3 separate regions of the Homo sapiens genome follow, and regions 1 and 2 are each linked to region 3. Evidence: fine-mapped expression QTL. A gene starts in region 3. Each other region holds a variant in brackets. All regions are shown on one strand. Distances are from middle to middle. Region 1 holds the start of YEATS2-AS1 (YEATS2 antisense RNA 1). Region 2 overlaps YEATS2 (YEATS domain containing 2). Region 3 holds the start of YEATS2 (YEATS domain containing 2).

The links. PIP is the estimated chance that this variant, and not a neighbour inherited with it, causes the effect.
Region 1: its variant is the best candidate, but not a certain one, in a credible set for the expression of YEATS2 in whole blood (INTERVAL, PIP 0.58).
Region 2: its variant is the best candidate, but not a certain one, in a credible set for the expression of YEATS2 in whole blood (TOPMed, PIP 0.68).

What each region holds. Positions count from the first base shown.
Region 1 is chr3:183,808,306-183,811,065 of GRCh38, reverse strand. It overlaps YEATS2 (YEATS domain containing 2), which reads right to left. Exons shown (of 31, transcript NM_018023.5): 30 at 1,896-1,969; 31 at 1-591. The coding sequence ends at 483. It overlaps YEATS2-AS1 (YEATS2 antisense RNA 1), which reads left to right and starts at 615. Exons shown (of 3, transcript NR_046727.1): 1 at 615-1,047; 2 at 2,214-2,336. RefSeq lists an enhancer at 233-1,432. The variant A/G (reference allele first, on the strand shown) is at 1,236.
Region 2 is chr3:183,721,587-183,724,346 of GRCh38, reverse strand. YEATS2 (YEATS domain containing 2) reads right to left here. Exons shown (of 31, transcript NM_018023.5): 5 at 2,211-2,456. Among named protein-coding and RNA genes, the nearest start is that of YEATS2, 25 kb to the right of the region's middle. The variant G/A (reference allele first, on the strand shown) is at 1,444.
Region 3 is chr3:183,696,658-183,699,417 of GRCh38, reverse strand. YEATS2 (YEATS domain containing 2) reads right to left here and starts at 1,621. Exons shown (of 31, transcript NM_018023.5): 1 at 1,425-1,621. RefSeq lists a silencer at 1,247-1,716.

The DNA.
Region 1 (2,760 bases), 110 kb before region 3:
CCAGGCATGGGAGAGAACCACCTGCTGAAGGCTGAAGCCCAATCTCTCTTCAGGGTAACTGCTGGAGCTACTGGTAACTCCAGCCCACAAAATGGGTGAAATCTCTAGCCTGCCACTCATTTTCTACCTCCTGGGGAGGCGGGCCCAAGGAGCCCCCTTAAGCACACCCAGGGAGAAGGGCCTGAGGCACACGGCCTGGCCCGCTCTCGTGGGGCCTTTACAAAGACTGCAGAAACGCTGGCCGACAAAGCACGGATCCACTGACAGCCTCACTCCACACTCAGGAAACAAACTCCTGTCCTAGGAGGATTTCATCTGGAGTGCAGCGTGCTGGTGACACGTGGGAACAGGCAGCGGCAAAGGTTGGGTAGCCATGACATGCCGAGTCACACTGGAAACCACCTCCTTCCCGAGCAGCAGGGTCCTCAGTTACAGCTTCGCTGTGCCTTCAAAGCCTGCTTCTCCAGGGCACCTCACTCCGCTCACTGGTCCTCATTCAATATTCCCATGTGTTTGTTTGTGAGGAAGTCCAGAAAAGGAATGTTGCAAATGGCCTGGTGAATATTACTCACTGTAATTTCTTTGGGAATCCTGGTCCAAAAAACAAAGGGTGTTACCAGGTGAAATTCTCTCACGTATATCTCATCATTTATTCACTTAACTCATCACAGGGACCATCCCAGGCAGAGGCCCCGTGGAGAGGGCTCCTGAGCCACAGACATAGCTTAGGGCCACTCTGGGGTGAGGACTGCCTTCCTGTCATAGGCATGAGAAGGATGTCAACAAGTTGGTTGAATAATTAGGAAAAAAGATTCTGAGAACTGAGAAAAGAGAAAGAAAACAAAGCGGATGGCAGAACGGAATGACACATTTGTGAGTGAGTCTCAGCAGACCGAAAGCTGAGTCAAAGCACCACAAAACTCTGGGACCTTATTTCCCATCTCCTAGAAAGACGGGAGACGGAGCCACGCCAGGCCAGGCGTGATGTTAATCGTTCCATCAAAAGCACCTAAGTCACTCTACCCCTCCAGGACAGGGAGCACAGAGGTAAGCAGGGGCCACAGGAGGCCCTGGCTCACTTGTGGGTCCAAGCAGGACAGTGGGCAGCAGGACCGGAACTCTTGGTTCCCCTTCCTTTTCTCTAAAGACGCCTATGTTGTCTGATATATTCCTGTGAAGTTTCATCTACTATTCCTCTGATTTAGGCCCTTCATGTCCTCAGGCACTTTGCTACA[A/G]TTTTATAAATCTGTGACAGCCTTTAGCATAATGCAATAAAATAATATTTGTTTCCTCCGAAAGAAAAGCAGATGTGGCCTATCTACCATCCTTTCAGGGCCTAGGAACAGACTGAAACTCAGTGTCTTAATCAAAGACAACGAGTCAGCAAAGAGCAGTGGCGAGCCCAGGGGCCTCAGAGCCAATGAGACCTGAGTCGGAAGTCCAGGTCTACACTGTATTTGCTGGGTAAGCTGGGTAAAATTACCTTTCAAAGCCCGGTTTCCTGATTTTTAAAAAGAGAATAATAGTTCTGCAATGAAAAACAAATTAGGTAATATATGCAACGCTTGGCCCTCGTGTCTGACATGTAATGGACACTGTTATCTTTAATTGCAAAGCTAATATTTATTCAACCCTGTAATAAAACAGAGTCCTAGGTGTCTGTGAAGTAATGAGGAGGATATAAACCTCTGAGCAAAGCTGAGTGAGCTTTCACAACCATGAGGTTCTCTAAAAATGACAAAGCAGACCCTTGAGCTCATCTGGCTCTAAGAGTGTCCTAAGCACTCACTCCATCTCCTACTGGATTGATGTAAGTATAAAACACCTTCATGGGCAATTCAACTGTTAGGAAAGAGGTGTAAGCCTCACACCACAGACTGCAGAGATAGTAATACCTGTTGTGAGAAGCTGTCTGGTATCCAACTGCCAAAGCCTGTCTCAGGATATCATTCACCAGCTGTTCTGTAGCCTACAATGGAAGATGCTGTTATTCTTCAAATGGCCATCTGCTTGCTGGCAAGAAGGGACACATTTAACCCCATCCCTTACCCCAAATGTTTGAAACCACTGCAACTAGGGATTAAAAAGTCCTTAAGAAAAAATTAAAGGCCTCAATAATAGACCATAATGATAAAGGCCATGATTCTGAGAAATTATGAATTGGAGTGATTTTCATTAATCAGACATTATTCTATTTATTTATTTATTTTGAGATGGAGTCTCACTCTCGCGCCCAGGCTGGAGCGCAGTGGCGCGATCTTGGCTCAGTGCAACCTCCGCCTCCCGGGTTCAAGCGATTCTCCTGCCTCAGCCTCCCAAGTAGCTGGGATTACCAGGTGAGCGCCACCAAGCCCAGCTAATTTTTTATTTTTAGTAGAGATGGGGTTTCACCATGTTGGCCAGGCTGGTCTCCAACTCCTGATTGCAAATGATCCACCCGCCTCGGCCTCCCAAAGTGCTGAGATTACAGGCATGAGCCACCGCGCCCAGCCCTAGACATTGTATTTAAGGAAAGCAGTTGTTACGGAGGTATCCCTATTCTTGGAGAGGATCCACGAGGAAAGGAACTGCTGAGCTAGGATCAGGCTGGGGAAGGAGGCTGCGGCATTTTCGTCCCCTTGCCAGGGTCAGGACAGTTGGGGCTGTTTGCTGTTGTGACGTGTACAGAAAACCATAGGCTTTGTCTCTGCCACCTCCTAAAGCAACGAGCACACTGACCACCACCCCCAGAATACGTCTTAGGAGGCACCTGAAACCACA
Region 2 (2,760 bases), 25 kb before region 3:
AAAAAGTATAAATGGAATAACTAAGTTTTTTTAAAAAATTACAAAATTTTCTGGCTTTGTAGCACCTCTCAAAGCATTAAAAAAGTTACTATAAATGCTGCCTTAATTTATACAAAGTTTATATACTGTAACTCCCGGTGTGTTTTTAATAGTCACATACATCTGCTTTGAATATGCAAATAGGATTTGGAAGGATACACAAAAAACTATTACAGTGGTTACTTCTGGGAAACAGGAATAGAAAGAGAGAAAGGGGTCAATGGAATTTACCCTCTTTTTAACCTTTTATAATATTCAAAACTGTTCAATGAGAAATAAGTGCCTGGTACATAGTAAATGCTAAATGTTTGCTATATAAATACATATAGAAATGATCACATATTGTATAAAACATGTTAAGTTTCTATGACCATTATGCCCTAAATTCTATTTTTTGAGACAGAATCTCGCTCTGTCAACCAGGCTGGAATGCAATGGCACGATCTCGGCTCATTGCAATCTCCGCCTCCTGGGTTCAAGCGATTCTCCTGCCTCAGCCTCTCGAGTAGATGGGATTACAGGTACCCGCCACTAAGCCCAGGTAATTTTTGTATTTTTAGTAGAAATGGAGTTTCACCATGTTAGTCAGGCTGGTCTCAAACTCCTGACCTCTGGTGATCCCCCACTTGGGCTCCCAAAGTGCTGGGATTACAGGCGTGAGCCACCACGCCCAGCCTCCTAAATTCTTTTTAACTAAAAAAAAGAAAAACACATGTAATATTTGCTCAGGAATAATACTGGAAAGGTAAGGTAAATCCAAACAGTGAAGAGTTCTGATTTTGGGGGTGGCAGCCTCACGAATGAACTTTTCTATTCTTTTTTACTTTTCTGTATTTAACAATTTTCAAAAAATGAACACATATGAATTTATAATCTGAAAAATAAATACAAACATATTTTTATCAAAAATAAATCAAACCCTTGACATCTAAGTATGTGGAAAGTAACTTGGAAATTTTCTGTATCACAGTCAACACCTGGCTGAGAAAAATCGCTGCTCTAATCCAATAATGACTCTATAGCCAAATATTTTTCAAGAAGTTCAGAGTAGCTTGAGATGGGAGCTCAAATTACAAACTGGCATGATCAAAGAGCAATGTTTTTCAATTCTGTTTATTTGTCAAATTTCCTCCATCTACTAAAGTACTAAAGCATCTTAGAATATAAAGTCTCACAGAGGAAACCGTTGAAGAACGGCTGCTCTCGAGAGAATAAACACGACAGAGTTGAAAGACCTTGAGCAAGATCACGGAATTGCCGAGCTAGAAGGTTTCTTTCACACCTACGTAAACAGCATCCAGGAGCTGTGCTGTGCACAGAATCTCCAGGCTGTAAAATTAGAAACACTCAGGTTTAAGTCGGGCGCGGTGGCTCACGCCTGTAATCCCAGCACTTTGAGAGGCC[G/A]AGGCAGGCAGATCATGAAGTCAGGAGTTCGAGACCAGTCTGGCCAACAGGGTGAAACCTCGTCTCTACTAAAAATACAAAAAATTAGCCAGGCGTGGTAGCACATGCCTCTAATCCCAGCTACTTGGGAGGCTGAGACAGGAAAATAGCTTGAACCTGGGAGACAGAGGTGGCAATGAGCCGAGATTGCGCCACTGCACTCCAGCCTGGGTGATAAAGCGAGACTCCGTCTCAGAAAAAAAAAAGAAACACTTAGGTTTAATTCGCAGTTCTGACACTTTTGGGCAAGTAAAACCAAATCAAGATTTGGTTTCCCGCTGGGCGCAGTGGCTCACGCCTATAATCCCAGCACTTTGGGAGGCCGAGGCGGGAAGATCACGAGGTCAGGAGATCGAGACCATCCTGGCTAACACGGTGAAATCCCGTCTCTACTAAAAATATAAAAAAATTAGCCGGGCGTGGTGGCACACACCTGTGGTCTCAGCTACTCAGGAGGCTGAAGCAGGAGAATGGCGTGAACCCGGGAGGCGGAGGTTGCAGTGAGCCATGATCCTGCCACTGCACTCCAGCCTGGGCAACAGAGCAAAACTCTGTCTCAAAAAAAAAAAAAAAAAAAAAAAAAAAAGATTTGGTTTCCCCATTATAAAAGGAAAACAAACCTATTTCCTAAGATTCCTGTGACAGTTCAGTGAGATAACAAGCGCATACTTTAGTAAATATAGTTCCCTTCTCCTGTGGCTCCCTCCCACATCCACCCATCTATATACCCTTCCAGTATTTCGGCTTGGTCTCTGCTCCATGTTGTTTGAGAGTCTTTCCTCTATATCCATATTGCTGTTATTATCTTTGTCAGATAAGAAGTCATTGTGCTGAGATAAAGAATCACTTTCTGAATGATTGGCTGATGGTGTTTCTGCTCTCTGATTGGCAGGAGATGATGACCTAGATGGTGATTCCAAAAATTTCTTGATAGCAGGATGATTAAAAACCATTGTATCACATGTCTTTGATCCCTACAAAAAATGAAAGCAAGCAAATAAATTTTTAATCAAATCCATCAAAAGCAGGCAAAAATCTGATCTCTCCAAAACCTTATCTATTACAGGATCATGCTTAAAATCTTTCAAAATCTCCCCACATCCATAAAATGATATCCCAACCCCTTAGCACAGCCTGAACCAACCAAACAAAAACTAGAATGATGAATAATTATGTAAAGTTTCTAACACTAACAGCTAGAGATGTAGGGTCTTCCGGAGGTAAATGAGAAATAATATATGTTAACACAGAAAATAAAATCTGACTTTAAAAGTCTCA
Region 3 (2,760 bases):
ATCTCTAGCTCTAGCCTCTCTCCTCCTTGAGTTCCAGCCCTCTACATCCAACTGCCTCAACACACCGACTTCATAACTAACATGCATCTAAAATTTAATACATCTAAAATAGAATTCGTTTTTCCCACCTCAAATTTCTCTCTTCCATTCTTCATCTCAGTAAACAGCACCACCACCTACTCAGTTGCTCAAAACAAAAATCAAAAAAGCAAAGATTCCCACCATTCCCTCACCAATCCAAGTCTTGTTCATTCTACCTTAAAACATTTAAAAATCTGTTTATACTTCCCCATCTCCCTGCCACGGGCCTAGTCCAAGCTACTGCAAAGAGCACAGTAACTGACCTCGTAGGTTCCTCCCCAGCCCTCTTCCTCTACATAGCAGTCGGATCATGCTACTCGCCTTCTCAAAACCTTCAAAGGCTTCCCGGGAAAAACTAAACTCCTTATCAGGGCATCATCTGCCCTATCTTTTAAAGAGTATACACAAACAGGAATATACATCCAAGGGTAGTATCTCTAGATCGTAAAACTGCGGGCATTTTTCTCTGGCTTTGCTTGTATTTTTAAATTTTTCTACGCTGAATACCCTCTACTCATTAAGAAAGGGGAAATGATATTGCTGAATTCTATATAATATTATACCGCATTTTTTACATGTGAGCGAGAAAAGGGAATGGAAAACGTGGGTCAACTCTGTAACTGCTGAATGCTTAGATGAAAATACTAGCCAACATCAAACTAAAAAAAAATGATGTGTCAGGCCTGTAAGATTGCTGATGGCATTTCTCTTCCTCTGGTTTCTATTTCTTAACATAATCACATTCATGATGGAGAAAACCTCATTGTCTTCTGCAGTCTGGCCACAGCCCTTCAAGCCAGCCTTTCCTGCAGGAGTCCTCACTTTCCGAGGCTTCCACTCCGCCCCGCACTGCCCGCAGCTCCGGCGCGTTGGCCCCGGCCCCATCCCTGGACCCCCAAAGCCTCTCTGACCCCTCCCCTCCATCCCAGGGAGGCCCGGTGGGGATGGCGACAGGTTGGAGGGGCATTCCAGGATCCTTTCGGTAAACCCACGACTTTCTGGTGCTGGGGCCAAATCTTGCCTCCAAGGCCAAGAGCTTAACATCCTAAAAGCTCCGGCCGCTGTGGCTCGGGGTCCCGTATCCCCTCAGCGCAGCGCCCCGCTGAAGAGGAAGCCCCCAACTCACGTTCCAATTCCAGGCTCCCGCTTCTGCGGCTCCCCGGCCCGCACCTGGGATCCTCCCTGCCCTCCCCTCGGCCCCGGGGCCTCACCGGGTCCCGCTGCCGCGCTGCCTGCCGATGGGGGAGGGGCGCGCACGTGCCCGCGCCGCCCCCGCCCAAACAATGCCCCGGAGAGCGGGGCGCGCTCCCGGCCGGTCCCTTCCTGCGCCCGCCAACACTCACCCTTTCTCCGGGTCTCCGGCTGCAGCGCGGGCCCCGCCGGCCGCCGCGAGAGAGCACGGCGAGGTGAGAGAGCGGGCGAAGCCCCGCGGAGCTGCCCCGCCACAAGGCCCCAGCGACCCCCGCAACCTGCGGAAGCACACGGCGCGGTGGAGCCCGCCCGGCGCGTTCCGCCCCGCACGTCAGCAGCTGGGCGCGTCGGGGCGCGCGCGGCGGCGCGCGCGGCCTCGGGGCGGAGCTCCCAGGGATGAGGGCGGGGCGGGGCGGGGCGGGGCTGGTCCGGGCTGGGACCCCGGCCCGCGAGGGCACTTCCTGGGCAGTGTGGGCGTCGATTCTTGCAAAGGCACAGTCGTCCATCACTTTCCTGCCCCAGAAGATGGCGAATTTCAACCCCAAGTTTGACAGAATATTCATTCTGCCGGCGTGTATGAGCTTCCCTATTAATCACAATAGTGACTATGATGTTTGTGTGTGCCATCTTTGTGCCAACCCATGTGCTAAGTGCTGGGTATACAAAATAACAGTAGTTATTTCTAGCCCATTTTACAGATGAAGAAACTGAGGCAGGGAAGGCTTGAGACTTATCTCAGTCACACTAGCTAGTGACAATCCAAGTCCAGTTTTCCACCTAAATATCACTTGAGGCCAACATTCTCTTTCGTTGTAACTCTACCACCCTACCCAAGACCCTGTAATCTCTCTGCCCAAGACTATGAATAGCCTCCCAACTGGTCTTGGGGAACTTCTGTTCCCCTTCAATCCCTTCTCACTGTATAACGATTTACTACTGGAGCTGAGTGGTGGGTTTAGGAAGTTCACTTTTTTTTTTATACTTTACATACATGTTACCAAATTTTTAATGTATTTAATGTTTTTATCAACGCATAATAAATATAAGTGGTGTTTTGTTTTTTGTGTTTTTTTTTTTTTTTGAGATAGAGTCTCCCTCTGTTGCCAGGCTGGAGTGCAGTGGCATGATCTTGGCTCACTGCAGCCTCCGCCTCCCGGGTTCAAGCGATTCTCCTGCCTCAGCCTCCCAAGTAGCTGGGATTACAAGGCGCGCGCCACCACGCCTGGCTGATTTTTGTATTTTTAGTAGAGACAGGGTTTCACCATGTTGGCCAGGCTGCTCTCGAACTCCTGACCTTAGGTGATCCACCCGCCTCAGCCTCCCAAAGTGCTGGGATTACAGGCGTGAACCACCACCCCCAGGCTAATTTTGGTTTTTTTAGACAGGTCTCACTATCACCACAGCTAGTCTCACACTTCCGGGCTCGAGAGATCCTCCTGGCTGGGCACGGTGGCTCATGCCTGTAATCCCAGCACTTTGGGAGGCTGA